4 separate regions of the Homo sapiens genome follow, and regions 2, 3 and 4 are each linked to region 1. Evidence: fine-mapped expression QTL. A gene starts in region 1. Each other region holds a variant in brackets. All regions are shown on one strand. Distances are between the middles of the regions.

Region 1 (5,202 bases):
TTTCCCTTCTTCCCTTTCCCTTTTCTTTGCCTTTTCTTACTGTTCCCTTTGCCCTTTAAGGTTCAATCCAAGGGCCATCTTCATAGTAAATCTTTACTGACCACTCCCCTTCCTCCCTTCCAAACTACCACGCTAAGTTAGTAACTTTTCTAAACTCCCCTAATACCTTGTACATACCACCACTGATTCTTTTAGCCTTTGATGTGTGTTTGTGTACATATATATGTATATCACATGATATATATATCAGATGATTTTATATATATATATATATATATATATATATATATATATATATATATATGATATAATCTATGCATCTGTCATTGCCTCCTCCCCCAAGTCAGGGCCTGGCACATAATTAGTACAGTACTCAATAAGTTCAATAACTGTTTCTTGAGGAAATATAAATTAAAACTGCAATGTGATACCACCACATCCCCATCAGAATGGCCACAATGAAAAGGATTGTTAATATCAAGTGTTGATGAAGATATTGAAAAACTGGAAATTTCAAACATGCTAGAAAGAATATAAATGGGAAACTTTTTTGGCAGAATTCACTAAAGCTGAACATATGCATATTGTATTACCCAACGATTGAACTTCCGGGTATAAGTATCCAACAGAAATGAATGTGTACATCTCAGAAGGTTCATATCAATTTTATTCATAATAGCCCCAAACTGGAAACAACCTAATGTCCATCCACAATAATGGATAAATGAATTGTGGCATATTCATATCATGGAACAGTATACAATAATTTTTTTAAATGAAAAACTGCTATGGGTCAGGTGCAGGGGCTCACCCCTGTAATCTCAACACTTTGGTGGGAGGCTGAGGCGGACAAGTCACTTGAGCTCAGGAGTTCGAGACCAGCCTAGGCAACATGGAAAAACCCAGTCTCTACAAATGTACCCCCTCCAAAAAAAAAAAAAAAGCCCGGTCCTGTGGTGTGTGCCTGTAGTCCTGGCTGCTCAGGAGGCTGAGGTGGGACGATCACTTGTGCTCAGGTGGTCAAGGCTGCAGTGAGTGCAGTGAGAGGTGATGGTAACAGTGTACTCCTACCTGAGTGACAGAGTGAGACCCTGTCTCAAACAAAACAAGACAAAAAACTGCTACAATATAAGCAACAATATAGATGATTTTCACCGACTAATATTGAGCAAAGCAAACCAGAAACAGAGTACATATTGTGATTTTCCACTAAAATGAAATTCCAGAAAAGGTCAAATTAATCTCCAGCAAAAGAGGATGAAATAATGGTTAACTTTTACAGGTGGGAGGGGTAATGTACTGGAAGAGGACAGTAGGGAGATTTTTAAAGTTTTGAAAGTATTCTATATTTTTATAATCATATATATTTACCTATTATTATTATTTGAGACATAGTCTCATCCTGTTGCTCAGGCTGGAGTGCAGTGGCGCCATCTCGGCTCACTGCAACCTCTGCCTCCTGGGTTCAAGCGATTCTCATGTCTCGGCCTCCCGAGTACCTGGGATTACAGGCGCACCTCCACCACCACGCCCAGCTAATTTTTTTTTTGTATTTTTAGTAGAGAAGGGGTTTCACCATGTTGGCCAGGCTGGTCTCAAACTCCTGACTTCAAGTGATCTGCCTGCCTCGGCTTCCCAAAGTGCTGGGATTACAGGCGTGAGCCACCGCTCCTGGCCTATAATCATACATTTAAAAGCCACATACGGAAGAATTTTCTAGGACAATGTCAACTCTCCATTAAAAAACTTTTCACACCCCAACCACATAAATATGTAAAAATTTGAGTTTTACCCTTATGATTTGTGCATTTTACTGTCTATAAATTACATCTTGATAAAAATGTAAATAAAAACAAATAAAAATGAATGTTCCTTGAATGAGTGAATAAACGAATGAATGAGTTGTGTTTTCAAAGAGGAAAATAAAGACATTACCGTGAAAGAGGATCTTGTACTGCATTGAATTTTTAAGTAGTGCTTAGTTCTTGCACTTTCTTTGCTCTAATGATGCCCAAAATAATTGTTCGTTTACTTACTTTGCTTAAGTATTAATTTCCTTTGCTATTTAGCCACGACTGTGAAGTTAAGACAAGAAAGTCATCAACAGTAATGCAGATGATGTAAATACCTTGTGGGACTGGCATTTAATTTACTGCGAGGGATCTATTAAGCTCTTGGGGAATTGGGGAATATGCCTAATTCCCTTCTGGCGTTTTTAATTTTTTTAATCCTTTTGTGTTTTATGAGATGTGAGTACAAATTAATTATTCAGACTCTTGAGAGAGGAGACGAGTTGGCGGAGTTGCCACCCGTGTTCACGAACAGGAACAGAAGCCACCAGCACATGACATTGCCCAAGCCACCCAGAGATCAGAGTGGAAGAGTCCTAATTGCTGGGCGGCCCAGCCCCGGGATGTGCCTCTCCCATCCTTCTCCAGGCGGGGCTCGTGGCTAAGCAGCGACTCACCCTGCCAGCCTGTCACAGGCCAAGAGCGGCCAACAACTCCGCAGGCGACAATGGCCGCTGCACCCCAGGCGCTGTGGAAGCCCGACCCGGCTCTGGGTCCCATCTTAGAGCCTGGGATGCAGTGTCGGGAGTCGCGGTGCCCAGAGCATCCAGTAGGTGTCGCTGTCCCACGGCCGCCGCGCGCCCCCGGGGTGGGGAGCCGGGGCGTGTCTGCCTCACCTGGGGCTCCCGGCGCGAGCGCCTCACCTGGGCTAGCGCCCCTTGCCGCCCGCGCCGCGCGGGGGCGCTCTTCCGCGGCTGGGTCCCCGCCTCCGCCCCAACAGCTCGGGCTGCAGTGCTGCTCGCGCTGCGCTGGGTGCTGGTTCTGCAACCCGCGGCCGTCCCCCCGCATCCGCGACGAGGGGGCGGGGTCCCACGGCGCGCTGAGAAAGGCGGGCGAGCTGGCGCTCAGGTGTGTTCTTCCATAGGGCCCGGGCGGCAGAGAGGACCGCGTCCCGGCAGTCGGAGCGGGAGGAGGACAAGACGATGCCGCTGTCCCCGCCAGCCCAGGGCGACCCCGGGGAGCCCAGCCCGTGCAGGCCCCCTAAGAAGCACACCACCTTCCACCTCTGGCGCTCCAAAAAGAAGCAGCAGCCGGCGCCGCCTGACTGTGGGGTGTTCGTTCCGCACCCGCTCCCGGCGCCTGCCGGAGAGGCCAGGTGAGCTCCTCGCCCGAGCCCTCCAGTCCCACCTCCTCCTCCTCCTCCTTCTCCTGCTGCGCTAGCCCTTGGACTCCTGACCCCACTTGGAGGAGGGGAAAGCCCCGGGGTCTGTTTCAGTCCGCAGGAGGGTACCCGGGTCCGGAGGGGAGCGATCGTAGCCGCTGGGGTTGACGAGGTTCCTCGCGGCTTTTGGTTCAGACCAAGCACCGGCGAGAGGAACTTGTGCCCACGCATGTGGCCTTTAGTATGACTGCAAAGTTTTCATGCAGGAGCCTCCCGCATCAGCCTGCTAACCAGAGCGGCGGGGAGTGAGGGTTGTTACCGTCCTAAATGATGGCGGGAACTCTGCTTTGGGGTTAGGCACTGCTTTTGAGCTAGTGTCTTTATTGTAAAGCTCTTTATTGTGAATATCTGTAAGATCTGTGCTCTTACAGATGTTATACCCCCATTCTCCTCGCAACATACGAAGGGAGGAGGAAGTGGCAGGAATGGTTACCCCCATTTCATGGGTGGAGGAACTGAGACCAAAGGATAAATGGCTTCTCCCCATTGGAGCCAGTGGCAGAGCTAGAGAGCACCTAGTTATCAAAACTGTAGTTACCATTGTGCTTTTTGATTTTTATCATGGTTTTGAAGTGGTTTTATTCTATATGTATAATTATTCAACTATAGCATCAGAGTTTATGCATTCGTTGAATAATAATCAATTTGAAGTAACAGCGTATTTACATGGCTCAGAGGTGTGAAATATTTATAGTGATGGACAATTGACAATGTCCAGTAAATCCTTCCAAATGTGTTTTTAAAATACACCCTATGAGGGCCAGAATAAAATTGTGCAAAATTTGCATTTTAGACATGGTTTTCCTTTTATTTCTTTCTTTCTTTTTTTTTTTTTTTTTCTGAGACGGAGTCTTGCTCTGTCACCCAGGCTGGAGTGCACTGGCCCAATCCCGGCTCACTGCAAGCTCCACCTCCCGGGTTCACGCCATTCTCCTGCCTCAGCCCCCGAGTAGCTGGGACCACAGGCGCCCGCCACCACGCCCGGCTAATTTTTTGTATTTTTAGTAGAAACGGGGTTTCACCGTGTTAGACAGGATGGTCTCGATCTCCTGACCTCATGATCCGCCCGCCTCGGCCTCCCAAAGTGCTGGGATTACAGGCATGAGCCACCGCGCCCGGCCTCTCCTTTTATTTGTAAAAAAAGTCAATTTTACGATCTATTTTCATTCACTTATTGTATTGAGTACCTTAGCTAAGTGCCATGTACTGCGATATAAAAAACAATGAGAGACAGGAATAATTGTGTCATCAAAGAATTGTTAGTCTCTTGTGGATACCAAAAAATGCAATGATAGATGCCAGCACACAGGAGGGGATCAGGGAGGCTTCCTGGAGGAGGATAGGTGAAGTGGCTTAGGCAGAAACAGGGAGGAGCAGCGAGTTCCAGGCAGGGGCTGCACTGTGCACATCACCAGCACTTAGAAGAGCGTGGCACTTCCTGAGAAGCGCAAGTGGTTGCAGCGGGGAGGTCTAGGTGTGAGTGGGTAAGGGTAGGAAACCTAAGAAAGAAGTCATTTTATTTTTCTCTCATATTTTATCATCCACATTGGTAATCAGTTGTAGTAGAAATATATTACCTATTCAAACGTTTACTGTGCCTAATTATAGATTATACTTTCTAACAAAATACAGTATTTAATGTACCCAACATTGAAGTTCTTTTCTATTACCTCAGTAAATATTTTAAACATTTCCATCGTGGTTTTCCTTTTAAGATCTAGTCTTATCATTTACTGTCTATCAAAACATAATAATACACAGCTATAGGTAATTTATTCAAATGTAAATACATTTTAGTATAAAATTTAAAATAGGAGGCCGGGCGCGGTGGCTCACGCCTGTAATCCCAGCACTTTGGGAGGCCGAGACGGGCGGATCACGAGGTCAGGAGATCGAGACCATCCTGGCTAACACGGTGAAACCCCGTCTCTACTAAAAATACAAAAATTAGCCGGGCATGGTGGCGCGCGC
Region 2 (5,202 bases), 180 kb after region 1:
ATCATGACCCTTCATTCCACATAGGATTCAGCCTGACTCTCTTTCTAATGGTATTCCCCTGCATAAGTATCATTATTACACTTGAGAAAATTCACAAAGTGTCCATGATAATATCTGTTCAATAGTCCATCACCAAATTTTCCCAATTGCTTCAGGAATGTCTCTTATAGATTTGCATTTTCAAATCAGGATCCAATCAAGGTTCACATAAATGCGTTTGATTGTTCTGTCTCTTTTAAGTCTCTTTTTAAAGATCTCTAAAATACCCCATCTTTGTTTCCCAAGCCACTAACTTTTTTTTTTTTTTTTTTTTTTTTTTTTTTTTTTTTTTGAGACGGAGTCTCGCTCTGTCGCCCAGGCCGGACTGCGGACTGCAGTGGCGCAATCTCGGCTCACTGCAAGCTCCGCTTCCCGGGTTCACGCCATTCTCCTGCCTCAGCCTCCCGAGTAGCTGGGACTACAGGCGCCCGCCACCGCGCCCGGCTAATTTTTTGTATTTTTAGTAGAGACGGGGTTTCACCTTGTTAGCCAGGATGGTCTCGATCTCCTGACCTCATGATCCACCCGCCTCGGCCTCCCAAAGTGCTGGGATTACAGGCGTGAGCCACTAACTTTTAAAAAGATTTAGGCCAGCTGTCTTAGAGAGTGTGCCACATTCTAGATTTGTCTGAGTGTTCCCTCATGCTACTATTTAGCATGTTCTTCTGTTGCCCGAATTTCCTATCTACTAGGGCTTAGGTCTTAAGGTATGGTTAGGTTCAGGCCAAACAGTTTTGGCACGGATACTTCATATAGATAGTGCCATATATTTATGTTGTATCACAGCAGGTGGCATGTGCTAACTAGCTTGCCCTTTAGCAATACCAAGTTTGATTGCTTGGTTAAAGTGGTGCCTCCTCCATCTTTCCATTGTAAAGGTTCATTTTCCCCTTTGACATTCATAGCCCCCTCTCTTGTGAATAACCTCAAAGTCAGTACCTTCATATTTAATTTTTCAAGTATCCAGTTGGTTTCTGTGAATGGCCAATATTCATGTACAGCCATGTCTAGGGAACACAACTTAAGATCCATCTGGAAGTGCTGTTTTTGTTTAAGAGCAAGTGAACAAGATAAGACTGATTTTTCTTGTGTGACTCAAAGGGTATTTCTAAAAGAGTAATTGGACAAATATTTTAAATAAACATATAGATGGCCATTGTTATTACTTTAACAATATTCATTTGTAGGTATACATTTGTTTGTTTAAAAAATAAGCTTGGGCTTTATAATCATACTGTTTGTTAAGTACGACAATAAAGTTGTACTTTTTAATCTATATTGGCGAAAGCTTATGACCCAAGTACATGGGAAAATAAAAGATTACCTTTAGAAACTGAAATAACCCTGCCTGGAGATAGTTTCCCCCTCTCCTGATGGCCTCATAAATAATGTATCTTATTGGAACAGAATTTAGAAAAAGTGAATCATACTCTGCATATGAGTTTTCAAATTCAAAGTCCACCCAGCATTAATAAATGTCTGTTTGAATTACCCAGCAGGCCTTCAGCACTCATTTACTAAGGGAGAACTTTCAGAACAGCAGTCTTTTCAAATGCATTCATTCATGTTTTCGGTTTTTTCACAAATTCCCCTCTACCCAGAATGACTTTCCTTCCATGAATGTTATGCAACTAAACCACATGCTTCAACAGAAGTGAAATGTTTAGTATTAGATGAATAAATCCCCTCTGAACTCAAGCTATAGAAGGAAAGACTTAATGAAAAGGGTACTTCGGTAAGAATCATTTCAAAATCTCAGATCGCTTGCTCGTGAGCCGTACATTCAGTTTTTGAAAAATTAAACCTGTTCACTTGTAAAGAAGTCAGACTTGGGACCTGCTTGGTTAGCCTAATACCATAATGTGTTACAGAACTGCCATTATTTTGTTAGAGAACAAAATCCATGGGTACTGTGCCTGTGATAGCTTTGAGCTCCAAAATACATGTAACGTATCCTTGGCTGTCATGCTTTAAACATAAGGAAGTGTAAAGTACCCTATTCTTAGCGTCTGTTTTCTTGTGGTTTAGAAGCATTACAGTAGTATTTAAAAGATAAGCCTCTTTTTTTCCTTAAGGTAACTTTTTTTGAAGCATAACATTTGTACAAAAAGGTACATAAACCCTAAATATATAAGCTGAGTGAATTTTCACAAAGTGAATACACAAGCGCAGTCACCATTCAGATCAAGAAAAAGAACATTCCCAGCATCGCAGAAACCCGTTTCTTTCATGCGTCCTCACGCCCTCTTCCCCAGGAACCATCATCCTGACTTCTAACACTGTAGTTCTGACCTCCTACCCATATCCCACACCTGGCCTCCCAACATTCTTTCATGTGTGTGTTGTCAAATCATCAGTAGGAGCCTGGTTGTAAATCTCTGTATAATTAGAGAGTCTAGAGAAGTTACCAGTTTATCCAGCGGAATCTTCACAAAAACCACCGCCAAAAATGTGCCTTGGGCCAAAATTGGGAAGAAGAAAAAAGCAAAGAGGGAGGGGTCAGACCCGTTTTGTTGGTAAAAGATTTCATTTACAGCCACTCTCTTCTTGGCATGGTGTTCTGGGGAACACAACATGG[T/C]GGAGTACCACGGCTAAAACATTTTAGCAAAACTAACCGAATTGATGAGTGTAAGTGATCACTAAGAAGTCTATGTTTGTTTATGAAGCAGGTACATTAACCCCTCTCTTATAGAAAAGTCACTTCTTCAGCATCCTCACCTTCTCAGAACCCTTCCCAGGAACGAAGATGTTTACAAGAAGACCTTGTAAAGTTTAGAGACAGGGCTAGTAGGCATGGTTTTCTGGTTTCCTGATTTCTGGCACATTAGAGGAGGGTGGGGCTGCTGGTTCCCCAACTGAAGCAGAAGTGACAGCTGACAAGCTGATAGAAGGGTGTGGTATTGAAAAGCCATAACAATCAGAACCAAGAACTCAAAAAGCTTTGTGGCCTGGGAACAAGCAGCCCCACAGAACTTCAGAGCCCCTGAGGACACCACTGTGCATTAAATAATGCTCACAGTGATGATCCTGAGTAACTGTGAAAAGAGTAAACTGTGTTCAATGCACTTCCTGCAATGAGAAAAATTGCCATCACAAAAATGATTAGGGCTGGGCATGGTGGCTCACACCTGTAATCCCAGCACCTTTGGGAGGCCAAGGCGGGCGGATCACCTGAGGCCAGGAGTTTGAGACCAGCCTGGCCAATATGGTGAGACCCCCTCTACTAAAAAAAAAATGCAAAACTTAGTCGGATGTGGTGGTGTGTGCCTGTACTCCCAGCTACTTGGAAGGCTGAGGCAGTAGAATCACTTGAACCAGGAGGCAGAGGTTGCAGTGAGCTGAGAGCAAGCCACTGTACTCCAGCCTGGGTGACAGAACAAGACTCCGTCAAAAAAAAAAAAAATTGATTAGGAACCTGGTTCTGGAATCGGCTTGAATCATTCCAGCCTTTCATACTTATAGCTGTGTGGCCTTGGGCAACTTACTTAACTTTATCTATAAAATGGGGACAATAGCTTCTCTTCCTCATAGCATGGTTGTGAGGATTAGATGAAGTTCTCAGTGGCATTCCTTGTAAGCTCTAGGGAGATGTTAGCTGTTACTAATGTTTGGCACCATGACAAATGATTAGATGGAACTTTGGAGCAATTAATAATACAAATTAAAATAAGGGGACAAAGCCAGCCAAGGAGAAAAGTAAAAGATCAAGAATAGGGGCATATAATGGCTTTATTTTTCCTTGAGTCTAGTGTGATTCTAACACCTGAGTCCAACCATTCATTATGTAGGTCCGTATCCTCTCCTGTTCTTTTCCTCTCATCCTGGGTACCAGACAGAAGGAAAAACTGAAACAAATGATGAGTCGGCTCCCTTTCTTTCCTTCCATGGTGGCTATTTAGGTGGCTGATTTATGAAGAACCTGGATTTCAGGGTGTTCCTTTCATCCTGGAACCTGGTGAATACCCTGACTTGTCCTTCTGGGATACAGAAGAAGCGTACATTGGATCCATGCGGCCTCTGAAAATGGTAAAAATGAAATCCAAATGTCCTTGTGGTGATTCTTTGTCAGCTTGACGTGGTAATTCACAGGGTGTGACTTTGAAGCAATAAAGCTGACTTTTAAGAAACAAATTTGTAGTAGATTGGACCTATTGCTCAATAGAAATCATGGAAAGAATAACTTGCTAGATGCTATAGATTAAAAAAAAAAAAAAAAAGGCAGGTAAGACTATGTCCTTTGTCTTTAAGGCATTCTCAGCCCTGCAGAGCTGCAGATGGGTGCGCAAAGCTTCAGCGCAGTGTAGGTTTAACAAGTGAGGAAAGTGAAGAATTAAACATTGGTGGAAAAACAGGACAAAGATACATACAATTCCAAGTTGTGGGTGATGTGACAGAAAAGGGATAATTAGGAAAGCTTCATGCTAAATTAAATTCAGTCTTAAAAAATTAGCAGGATGATTTTTTAAATGGAGCTGTCGGTGAATGCACTGTGTGAGCTAGGGTGCAGCCTGAGAGAGAGCAGGGCACGCTGAGGACCGGCTCGGCTGCCGTGACACGAGTGGGTGGTGTCTTGGGGGTCTCTGGGGCTGGACCAGATGAGTGTTGTCCTCCTGAGTATCTGCTGTGGAAGCTTTGTGCTTCCTCTCCCTTGTCCCAGTGTCTTGCTTTGTTCTTTGTTTCTTCCGCTAGACTGTCAGCTTTGGGAGGAAGCAGGCCGCATCTGTCTTGTCCCCAGTGTTGAGCGCAGTGTGTGCTGCAGCATGGAAGTTGTTCCCTAAATACCCACAGTGAGATGAGGCTCCCATTACAAACATGTTTTTGAAGCTGCACTTCGCAGTTGTCTTCTGAGACAGTTTGAGACAAATTAGAAAGTTAGGAAGACAATTTTTTTAATGTTAATTTTACCCATCCTTCCAAAGTATTTGGTTTAATTATCTGTATGTTTGCTGGTCTTAATGCAAATGATTTGGGCTTTTGTTTCTAAAATTAAACTCACTTTCAAAGAACAAAGTTTTGTTAGTTTTGTGAATGTATGAAAGAATTCATCCAGGTTTTAGGAGCAGTTTGTAATGATGATGAAAAGTCTCCAAAGTCTATGGTGTTCAAACAGGATTACTTTTGAAAAGGTCATGTGCTTAGTTGTATAATCTCTGGTTTGCTGAT
Region 3 (5,202 bases), 190 kb after region 1:
TATTAAGTAATAAATGTGCCCTTTCCCCCCTAAAAACAACATTCCTGATTCTATAGTATGGTGAATTTTGACAGTTATATCCACATTCTCCTCAGCCTATAGTGACTGGATTTAAGAAAGCAGTTTGAGGCTGGGTGTGGTGGCTCACACCTGTAATCCCAACACTTTGGGAGGCCAAGGCGGGCGGATCACCTGAGGTCAGGAGTTCAAGACCAGCCTGACCAACATGGGGAAACCCCATGTCTACTAAAAAATACAAAATTAGCTGAGCGTGGTGTCACATGCCTGTGATCCCAGCTACTTGGGAGGCTGAGGCAGGAGAATCGCTTGAACTCAGGAGGCAAAGGCTGCGGTGAGCCAAGATCGCACCATTGCACTCCAGCCTGGGCAACAAGAGCGAAACTCTGTCAAGGAAGGCTGATACATTGGCCTGTTCAAGTTGATCAAATCTACAACCTTGCTTATTAGAATTATGCTCCAAGCTATTGAACAGTTTGATAGTTCGCTTTCTGATTTTTATATTTTTGCATCTTATAGATCTTGCACATTTCCCATAGAAGTGCACACTAAAGTTGCTCTTGTAAATCGCTAACTATTCATAATATTTTTGTTACTATCTGAAGTGAGTTTATCCAGTTTTGCTTGCTGAGGTTCTTTTGAGTCAGCCCTGATTAAACACACACACATACACACCACTCACACACACGCTCCCCTTCCCTTTTTTATACAACTCTGATATATGTCTCTTAGGTTATTTTCTTGGGGCCATTCTGTTATTCTCCTAAATTTTAAAGAATTCCAATGATAATAAAGCAGAAGGTCATGTCTAGCTTTATAACTATTTGTATTTTTCAATGAAATTGATATGTACCTTGAAAAAATGTTAACATGTCTGGAAATGACTACTCCTCGTGTTCTTTATGTTGCAGTTGGGTTGCATATGAGAAACCTGGATTTACCGGTCATCAGTATTTGCTAGAAGAAGGAGAATACAGGGACTGGAAAGCCTGGGGAGGTTACAATGGAGAGCTTCAGTCTTTACGACCTATATTAGGTGTAAGTAAAGGACAAGCTAATGGCTAATACTTGGTCTTCTTTGGATAATAAATGGCTAGCCTTTGAATTTTGAATTTTTTTTCTCAATAGGATTTTTCAAATGCTCACATGATAATGTACAGTGAAAAAAACTTTGGATCCAAAGGTTCCAGTATTGATGTATTGGGAATTGTTGCTAATTTAAAGGAGACTGGATATGGAGTGAAGACACAGTCTATTAATGTACTGAGTGGAGTGTAAGTGAAATAATCCAGTTGGAATTTTAAACATGCGTTTTACCTTGGTTTGTTTTAAACTGGTAAGAGTCTATCACAGAGTAGGCATTCAATACACAAATATCTCAACAGCTTAACATTAAATCAGTCATTTAATAGTTGCTGTCATGATATTTTCGTTAACTCTCTTTAAAAATCGTTCTCATACCATCTCTTCTTTTTACGTTTGGGGTAGGCTTTGGGTATCATGATAGAAATCTACAGATCTGTTTCCCTTGTCATTCTGCACAGAAAGATAGTGAATTTTTTAAATGATGGAGATCAAATAATAATAATAGTAATCTAACATAAACCTGAGGCTGGGTCAAAGTCCCAGTAGATTTTCCTGTGGTCCTACACCTGTTCCAGTATATTTCTTCACTATTAGTTTGACATAAAAATAATTGTTCTATGTACGTGGAGTTAGCAGTTGACTGTTTTATTAGTGGTGAAGCAAGTTTTTATTGAAAGATGTTTAGTCAAGATTCTTTGGGATGAAGTGACTGCAAGCCAAGCTAAATTGGCTCAAGGGATTAAAATGGAACTTACTGGCTTAAGTAACTAAAAAGTCCTGGAGAAGATTTTGCTTCAGGCATGCCTAGATGCAGCGGATCAAACACTATCAGAACTTAGTCTCTGTGTCTTGACTGGGCTTTTTTCTGTGTTAACTTGACTTTAGGTAGGCCTTTTGCATTTGGTGGCCTGTGGCCACATTCAGCTTTTGTTCTCCTAACTCTTTTTTTTTGAGGCAGAGTTTCACTCTGCCACCCAGGCTGGAGTGCAGTGGCAAAATCTCAGCTCACTGCAACCTCTGCCTCCTGGGCTTAAGCGATCCTCCTGCTTCAGCCTCCCAAGTAGTTGGGACCACAGATGTGTGCCACCAGGCCTGGCTAATTTTTGTATTTTTTTTTAGAGACAGGTTTTTGCCATGTTGCCCAGGCTGGTCTCAAACTCCTGAGCTCAGGTGATCCACCCGCCTTGGCCTCCCAAAGTGCTGGGATTACAGGCATGAGCCACCATGCCTGGCCCCAGCTCATTTCTTGCAGTGGAAAGAGCTTCTCTTTCTCACAAGTTCCATGTTTGACTTTGCTTTCCTAGGCTTGGGTCATGTGCACATGCCTGAACCAATCACTGTAGCCACAGAGACGGCC[A/G]TGTCTGGGCTACGTGTCCATCTCCAGAGCTGAGATGTAGGGTCTATCCCATAGGAGCCACTTAGATATGAATGGGGTTGGTGGTTCCCCAGGGACATCAGAAAGAGTGGGGAGATAGATGCCAGATGGGCAAAAACAGCAGATGGCTGTTATAGGGAGTTACATAATTATTCTTGTAATCCAGGCTAATGTCTATTCTAATTTGTTATAAGTGAGAGTATTCTCAAATAGTTACATGAAATAATGTGACATTGGTTATGCTGAAAGTGTTTGGTGTTAGGTTTTTGTTGTCATAGTGACATAGACTATTTGAATCATCCTAGCCTCAACCCCATTGTATCTCATGGGGCCTCCCACAATAGCCCTGGATATTTGAAAAGTGTGTACAATGTACTAAAAGTTGATGAACATGCTTAACTTTTACTCTTAGTAAATAGAGTAAAAAAAACCTTGTTCAACAAGTTCTTGTCTAGGCCGTTGCATGTGGTGCCATTTTGGCAGAGTATCAGTGATTTCCGGGTATTCCATTCTCAGCAGGAAATGCCTACTCTTGGGTCCTATTCTGGAGCCCTAACATTTTAGAATCAGTAGCCTGTTTGCAAAAGCCAGAAGTCATCTGAAATATAAGGTACAAGTTATCTGAAATGTTGCTGGGGCTCTGCAGTATTTTAGATTGTCTTTAAAGCTAATTATTTAGGAGGAAAACATAGTGACCAACTTAGTCTGGTGAAACAGTTGTACATTTTGATACTCACCAGTTGTGTTGGTTCTATTAGTCAGAGCCTAGTCATCCACCCTGGCAGAGGAAGCAAAAGGATGCTGGGTAGAATGAATTCCCTTAGGTATTTTGTAGATGATGCTATTAACACAGGTAGAATTATTGTGCCTTGAGCCAATCTCCTTTCCTTTTTAACCCAGGCCTTGCTTACTTGAAATCAGTTCCCTTTATAAAGTGCTGCTATTATATGTTTCTATTTTTAGTCATTTCTAATTGCATTTCCTGGCTTAAGCTTCTTTTTTCTGGCTGTAGCAGTTAAGTTTTGGTAGAAGGGGGAAGTTGAAGGGAGCTACGTACACATACGTGGACACACACACACACACACACACACACCACTTCCTTTGAAATTCTTTGCATATGGAAGGGCTTTTGTATTTACCAGGGCCAGGTGCTTCCTCATATTTTGTTCGATTTGTCATTTGACAAGTATTTATTGCGGTCTGTTATGTGCAAAGCATTGTATTATGTCCTCAAAGAAGTTACGGTATTTATGTAAAACATAATTATTGCTACAAAAGAGGTACAGATTAAATGCTCTGGGAATCCACAGCAGAGAGAGATTAATTTCCAGTCTGGACACAGGGAAGGAAGACTTTGTGGAGGAGGTGGCATTGGAGTTAGGCCTGTGGGATAGGATAGGAAGGCTGAGATGAGCCAAGATGATGGAGGAGGACTACCTATTCACTTTAAATAGTTTCAAAGGAAAATTATTGTATTTTAATGGCTTTATTTTTATTGGCAATTAAGTATTTTAGCTTGGTTCTTTATTTCTTATTATGGCATGCATTGTCAGAAAAAAACTCTTCTGAAGTTCTTGTTCCATGAAAGTATCTCCCAGGAGGCTCACCATCACATGGGTAATACATCCCCTGGGCAGTAAACTCATCATTAGTCCTGAAACAGAGAACAGCCTTCAGGAAGGATGCCCATGAAACCAGCAACTGAGGTTTTTAGGAACTGCATTTGATTCTTACTGGAAATGTCGAAAGAAACTCCCTGCTTATCAGTTTCTAGTTCTATGCTATATTCTTGCTCAAATAGTGGAAACTGGGCTAGTTTTTTAAAACTAGGAGCAAAATGAAATATTTCTGGTATTCAGATGAAAACGAAAAGTGTTGTTGTTTTAAATTCTTTTTCCTTTGGCCTTCCACGGAAGGGCAGGTTTACCCTGCTGCCCTTATCTTCTGAGCAATTATTCCACCAGGCTGGGACCTGCTAGTACTTGTGTACATGCCTTTCCCCCGTCTCCCCACCAGTCTTTAAACAGAGGAGTGTTGATTCATGTGTACAGAATACATCTGGACAAGGACAGGGAGGGATTTTCTTAAGAGCCCCAAGTGTAAGTTGTAAGTAGACTCTCGGATCATAGAGCAGAGAATCTCAGATCTGGGTTTTGCGGCTTCTCCCCTCCCCCACTCCCCCCATTCATGGGTGATTCATCAGGTATCTTGGAGGGAAAACAACACTACTGTCAGTTCAAGTAACATCTTAATAAATTGTTTTCCAGCTTCAGCTTCAGTGAATTAGAGATAGGCTTAGCTGGGTGTTGGGTATTTACTTACAAGTAGTTTAGTTTCATAGGAAAATACAGTACCCATACTTGTTAGTAAAAAGAACAGAGTACTGGCTAAAGCTGCTTCCAGGGCTGTCCTCTCTCCTTGGCATTCAGCCTCCCACCTCACTGTCTTTTTTCCCTCCAAACCTTGAAGTCAAACAGAAAGGCCTTTAACCCTCTTATCTCTCTACTTGTTACAGACTCGGAGCCCTGGTGAGAACCCTTTTTTTGATGTGGCTCTACTTCTTTAATTGTTCGTTGTTTTTTTAAAGTCCTAGTGTTTGTAACGTAGATTTTCTTTTTTTTTAAATTTTATTATTATTATACTTTAAGTTTTAGGGTACATGTGCACAACGTGCAGGTTAGTTACATATGTATACATGTGCCATGTTGGTGTGCTGCACCCAT
Region 4 (5,000 bases), 230 kb after region 1:
AGGCAGAGGTTGCAGTGAGCCAAGATCGTGCCATCGCACTCCAGCCTGGGGTACAAGAGTGAGACTTCATCTCAAAAAAAAAAAAGCCTCAAATTTAGCACTTTCAAGGATAGCAAAGTTAAATGGCCCAAAAATAGTATGTCTTCAGAAAAATGACTATTTAAAATGTATACAGAACATTAAAATGCCACATATCTTCATTTGCATCTCTAATAAGTGTTAACACAATATTGAATCAGAAAGCGTGTCAAAGTAATGAGCTATTAAGTAATAGGTAACATATGAAAAGGTTCTCTTAAAAAGAAGGGGAAGAAACTATAATCATTTTTTCTTAAAAACTTGGATCAGGTCCTCTCCCTTGGAGTAAGAAAACCTAAATAAATGTTACCCAGGTTTTAAAATGCAGATGCCTTATATTTTAAAATAATAAAGAATAACTAGATTTAAATTAAAAGGAGAGCTAAATTCTAATGTTATTCAGAATTAAGTATCCAGAAAGCATTCTGCTCCAAAATTGCTAAAATTCTTTTCTATAATGTTAATTTCATAGACTTAAAAGGGGGCTATTTTCAGCTAATTTGAGAATAGCCACTTGAAGATTACTAAGAAATTTTTGTGCAGATAATTATAGATCATAAGAGATCACTTGTTTTCTCAATCTTGTCCTAAGTATCAATTTCCTGAACTTCCTTAATATAAGATATAAAGGCTCACTAGAATACAAGGGATCTGTGTTTGTCTGGTTCACTATTGAATCCCTACTCCATGGCACACAAAGGTGCTTAGTAAATTTCTGTTAAATACAAAATGTAAATAAAGGGTTTTTAACTTATTCATAATCTTACCCAATTTCTCACTTTTAAAAAGCAACATTGACCAAAGACTTATATATCCTGAAAATCTGTGGGGAATTGAAATATTTAGGAGTGATATGATATACAATTTATTGTTTATGGGCTGCAAACAGAGACACTTGAGTGTAATGATACGTTGCTTTTCACAGCAAGTCCCAAATCAAATTCAAATATGTGAAGAATATAATCCAAGATGAATAGCTCATTGTGACCATCCTTTCTCTATACCTATATTAAAAAAGAAACTATTGAGGAAAAAGAAAAGTATGTTCTAAGCACCCACATTTAATACATGTTTTTCTTTAAACAGTATTAAATCCTCAGGAAGAATCTGTCACATGTTGAAACAGGTTTTTTTCCTCAAATTTCTGGTTTTTCCCCTCAAATTTCTAGTTTTTCCTTTCCCATTTAGAGCTATTTATTATCTTTGAACATTATGAAAATGTTTTAAAAACAGTTTTACTTAATAAAAATTTTTCATGTAATATAAAACACAACTATAGAAAACACCTATAGACGGGGTGTGGTGGCTCATACCTGTAATCGCAGCACTTTGGGAGGCTGAAATGGATGGATCACTTGAGCTCAGGAGTCTGAGACCTGCCTAGGCAACGTAGTGAAACCCCGTCTCTACTAAAAATACAAAAAAGTAGCTGGGCCTGGTGATGCATGCCTGTGGTCCCAGCTACTCAGGAGGCTGAAGTGGGAGGATCGCTTGAGCCGGCGGGGGTGGAGGTTGCAGTAAGCCAAGGTCGTACCACTGCACTCCAGCCTGGGTGACAGAGTGAGATTCTGTCTCAAAAAACAAAAAACAAAAAAAGAAAGAAAGAAAGAAAACAGCTATAGGGTGAACACCACCCAGATAAAGCAGCAGCACACTGGAAGCTATGCCAAAAATTCTCCCATGTGCCCCAAACCACAGAAGCCCCTCCTACCCTTTCCCAAAATAATTATTCTGATTTTTATAGTAATCACCTCCTTGCATTTCAAAAAGTTTATCACCCAACAATGCAGTCTCTAGACACTATAGTCTTGTGCATTCTTAAAACGTGGTATCTTTTAAATCTCTTTTTTTATTATTTATTTTTGGGTTGTTTTGGTTTTTTATTTGAGACAGTCTCACTCTGTTGCCCAGGCTAGAGTGCAGTGGCATGATCTCGGCTCACTGCAACCTCCACCTCCCAGGTTCAGGTGATTCTCCTGCCCTCAGCCTCCCGAGTAGCTGGCACTACAGGCACGTCACACCACGCCTGGCTAATTTTTGTATTTTTAGTAGATATGGGATTTCACCAGGTTGGCCAGGCTGGTCTTGAACTCCTGAGCTCACGTGATCCACCCGCCTTGGCCTCCCAAAATGCTGGGATTACAGGTGTGAGCCACTGTGCCCGGCCTTAAGTCTCTTTTAAATCATAGGCTCCTGTTCTATCCCTTTGCTTTCCTATAATTTATCTATGGAAGAATCTAGGCCATTTGATCTGTGGAGTTTCCCACAGTCTGGAATTTCTAACTGCACACCCACGGGACAGTTCCACACGTCGCTCTGTCCTCTGTATTTTCTGCAACTCGGCAGATGGATCTGGAGACTAGATCTGATTCCATTTCAATCCCTTTAGCAAAACTATGGACAGTGTCTGGCAAAACTAGAGGAGGCACATCATGTCTGCTTGAGGCTCTCTTTATTATCTTAGCAGCTGTCAATGCTTAATACCCATATCTGCTTATTGGTGGTTGCGAAATAGTGATCTTCTAATTCTACTTCTTTTATTTAAGTAGTTGGAATACTTTCTTTCTTTTTTTTTTTTTTTGTGGGGGACAGTCTCGCTCTGTCCCAGGCTAGAGTGCAGTGGCGTGATCTCTGCCCACTGCAACCTCTGCCTCCTAGGTTCAAGCAATTCTCCTGCCTCAGCCTCCCGAGTAGCTG[A/G]GATTACAGGTGCCCACCACCACGCCCGGCTAATTCTTGTATTTTTATTAGAGAAGGGGTTTCGCCATGTTGGCCAGGCTGGTCTGGAACCCTTGACCTGAGGTGATCTGCCCGCCTTGGCATCCCAAAGTGCTGAGATTACAGGCATGAGCCAACGCGTCCAGCCTGAATACTTTCACAAAATAACACTGCCCCTCATATCACTGCCCCTCACATATTATTTTGTCTGCTCAATTATACAGTTAATGTAGGAAAGGCAAGACAAATGCTTAACTGTTTTTCTTTATCAGTTTATAAGATAATAAATTGGTTCCCTATCAAATTCCAAAAGTGACCTCTTTTGAAAAAAGTATCATGAACTCATGGATTTAAATATATTTAAAAGGTTTCAACCCATTGTAATGGTCATTATTATTACTGAAGCTCAAACTGTTACATCTTTGGGCATTTCTTCAAGTTAGCTCTTGAGTCTTTTGACATGACCTGACTAGTCTTTGATATCTTCCTTGCTATTTAATATACTCCAGGTTAATTCTTTATATTTGTGCTCTAGATCTGAAATCAGCTACTTCTCTAAGAAGCCCTGCCTTGTTTCAGTGAGAAATGATATTTCAAGTGATGGCTTTACATACACACATACACAAAATATCTCTTGAGTTCATATTGATACTTCCAATTCTAATTTGAGACTACAAAATCCCAGCACTTTGGGAGGCTGAGGCAGGAAGGTTGCTTGAGGCCAGGAATTTGAGACCAGCCCAGGCAACACAGCAAGACCCCATCGCTACAAAAACGTGAAAAAATTAGCTGGGCATGGTGGCATGTGCCTGTAGTTCTACCTACTCAGGAGTTTGGGGTGAGAGGATCATTGAGCCCAGGAGGTTGAGGTTGCAGTGAGCTGTGATCATGTCACTGCATCTCAGCCTGGATGACAGAGCAACACACTGTCTCAAAAATAATGACAACTATTGCACTGTATTTACCTTATCAGAACATATGGCTGTTCCTACACTCTCTCCTTCTAAGCCCTCATTTAGTTTTGTTCTACAGGTAATTGTGTTGAACATTTACCACTAGTCCTTAAAATGTCTTCATAGTCATTCCTAGTCAGAAGCTCATTATCTAGTAGATTCCTCAGAAAAGGATCAGAAGAACAATATTCCCCACGTTCTTCATGTTGATAACAGTCTGTATGTGTCCATGATACCTGAAGGCCTGTTTTGTTGTATAAAAGATTCTTGGCGCACTCTTCCTTGAGTATCTTAAATATGTTACTCCATTTTTTTCTGCCAAAAGTGTTACTGCCAAAAAGTCTCATGATAGTCTAATTTTATTTCTCTTATAAGTCACGTCATCTTTTTTCTTATATGGACACATAAGTAGCACATGTGCTATTTTGTCTAGATTTCCAAAGGATCTTATTTCTTTTTTCTTTAAAGGCCAGTAATTTCACTATAATTTTTCTCCACATTTTTATTAGTAATTTTCCTTAGTGTTGCTCAGTCTGGGTCCATGTCCTTAGAAAAGTGATGTGTCTATTCAATATGTAATTTCAAATCATTTAATTTCAGGACAGTAGGAAAGTTTCTTTAATTATTGTTTTAATATGGGTTCAATTCCCTTGCTTTGGTTTTCCCCTTCGAGGACTCCTAGTATCCATATATCAATTTTCCTTGCCTGTCATCAATATTTGATACTTTCTCTTGACTCTGTTTTTATCTTTTTCTGTTTTTTTGAGATAGGTCTCACTCTGTCCAGGCTGAAGTGCAGTGGTGTGATCACAGCTCACTGCAGCCTCGACCTCCTGGGCTCAAGTGATCCTCACACCTCAGCCTCTCCATAGCTGGGATTACAGGTATGAGCCACCATGCCCAGCTAATTTTTGTATTTTTTGTAGAGACGAGGTTTTGCCATGTTGCCCAGGCTGGTCCTGAATCGCTGAGCTCAAGCAATCTGCCCTCCTCAGCCTAGCAAAGTGCTGGGATTACAGGGTGAGCCACTGTGCCCAGCCTATCTTTTTGTTTCTTTTGTAATTTGAATTTTTTTCTGCATTTTGTTTCTTTTTTTTTTTTTTTAATTATACTTTAAGTTTTAGGGTACATGTGCACATTGTGCAGGTTAGTTACATATGTATACATGTGCCATTCTGGTGCGCTGCACCCACTAACTCGTCATCTAGCATTAGGTATATCTCCCAACGCTATCCCTCCCCGCTCCCCGCACCC

The links. PIP is the estimated chance that this variant, and not a neighbour inherited with it, causes the effect.
Region 2: its variant is fine-mapped to the expression of CRYBG1 in whole blood (TOPMed, PIP 0.96).
Region 3: its variant is fine-mapped to the expression of CRYBG1 in tibial nerve (GTEx, PIP 0.90).
Region 4: its variant is fine-mapped to the expression of CRYBG1 in spleen (GTEx, PIP 0.90).

Annotation. Positions count from the first base shown.
Region 1 is chr6:106,357,917-106,363,118 of GRCh38, forward strand. It overlaps CRYBG1 (crystallin beta-gamma domain containing 1), which reads left to right and starts at 2,801. Exons shown (of 22, transcript NM_001371242.2): 1 at 2,801-3,165. The coding sequence starts at 2,993. RefSeq lists silencers at 2,602-2,811, 2,832-2,911 and an enhancer at 2,807-3,673.
Region 2 is chr6:106,535,465-106,540,666 of GRCh38, forward strand. CRYBG1 (crystallin beta-gamma domain containing 1) reads left to right here. Exons shown (of 22, transcript NM_001371242.2): 9 at 3,939-4,065. Among named protein-coding and RNA genes, the nearest start is that of RTN4IP1, 91 kb to the right of the region's middle. The variant T/C (reference allele first, on the strand shown) is at 2,618.
Region 3 is chr6:106,543,642-106,548,843 of GRCh38, forward strand. It overlaps CRYBG1 (crystallin beta-gamma domain containing 1), which reads left to right. Exons shown (of 22, transcript NM_001371242.2): 12 at 930-1,056; 13 at 1,147-1,292. Among named protein-coding and RNA genes, the nearest start is that of RTN4IP1, 83 kb to the right of the region's middle. The variant A/G (reference allele first, on the strand shown) is at 2,462.
Region 4 is chr6:106,592,857-106,597,856 of GRCh38, forward strand. All of the region lies in intron 5 of RTN4IP1 (reticulon 4 interacting protein 1), which reads right to left. Among named protein-coding and RNA genes, the nearest start is that of RTN4IP1, 34 kb to the right of the region's middle. The variant A/G (reference allele first, on the strand shown) is at 2,776.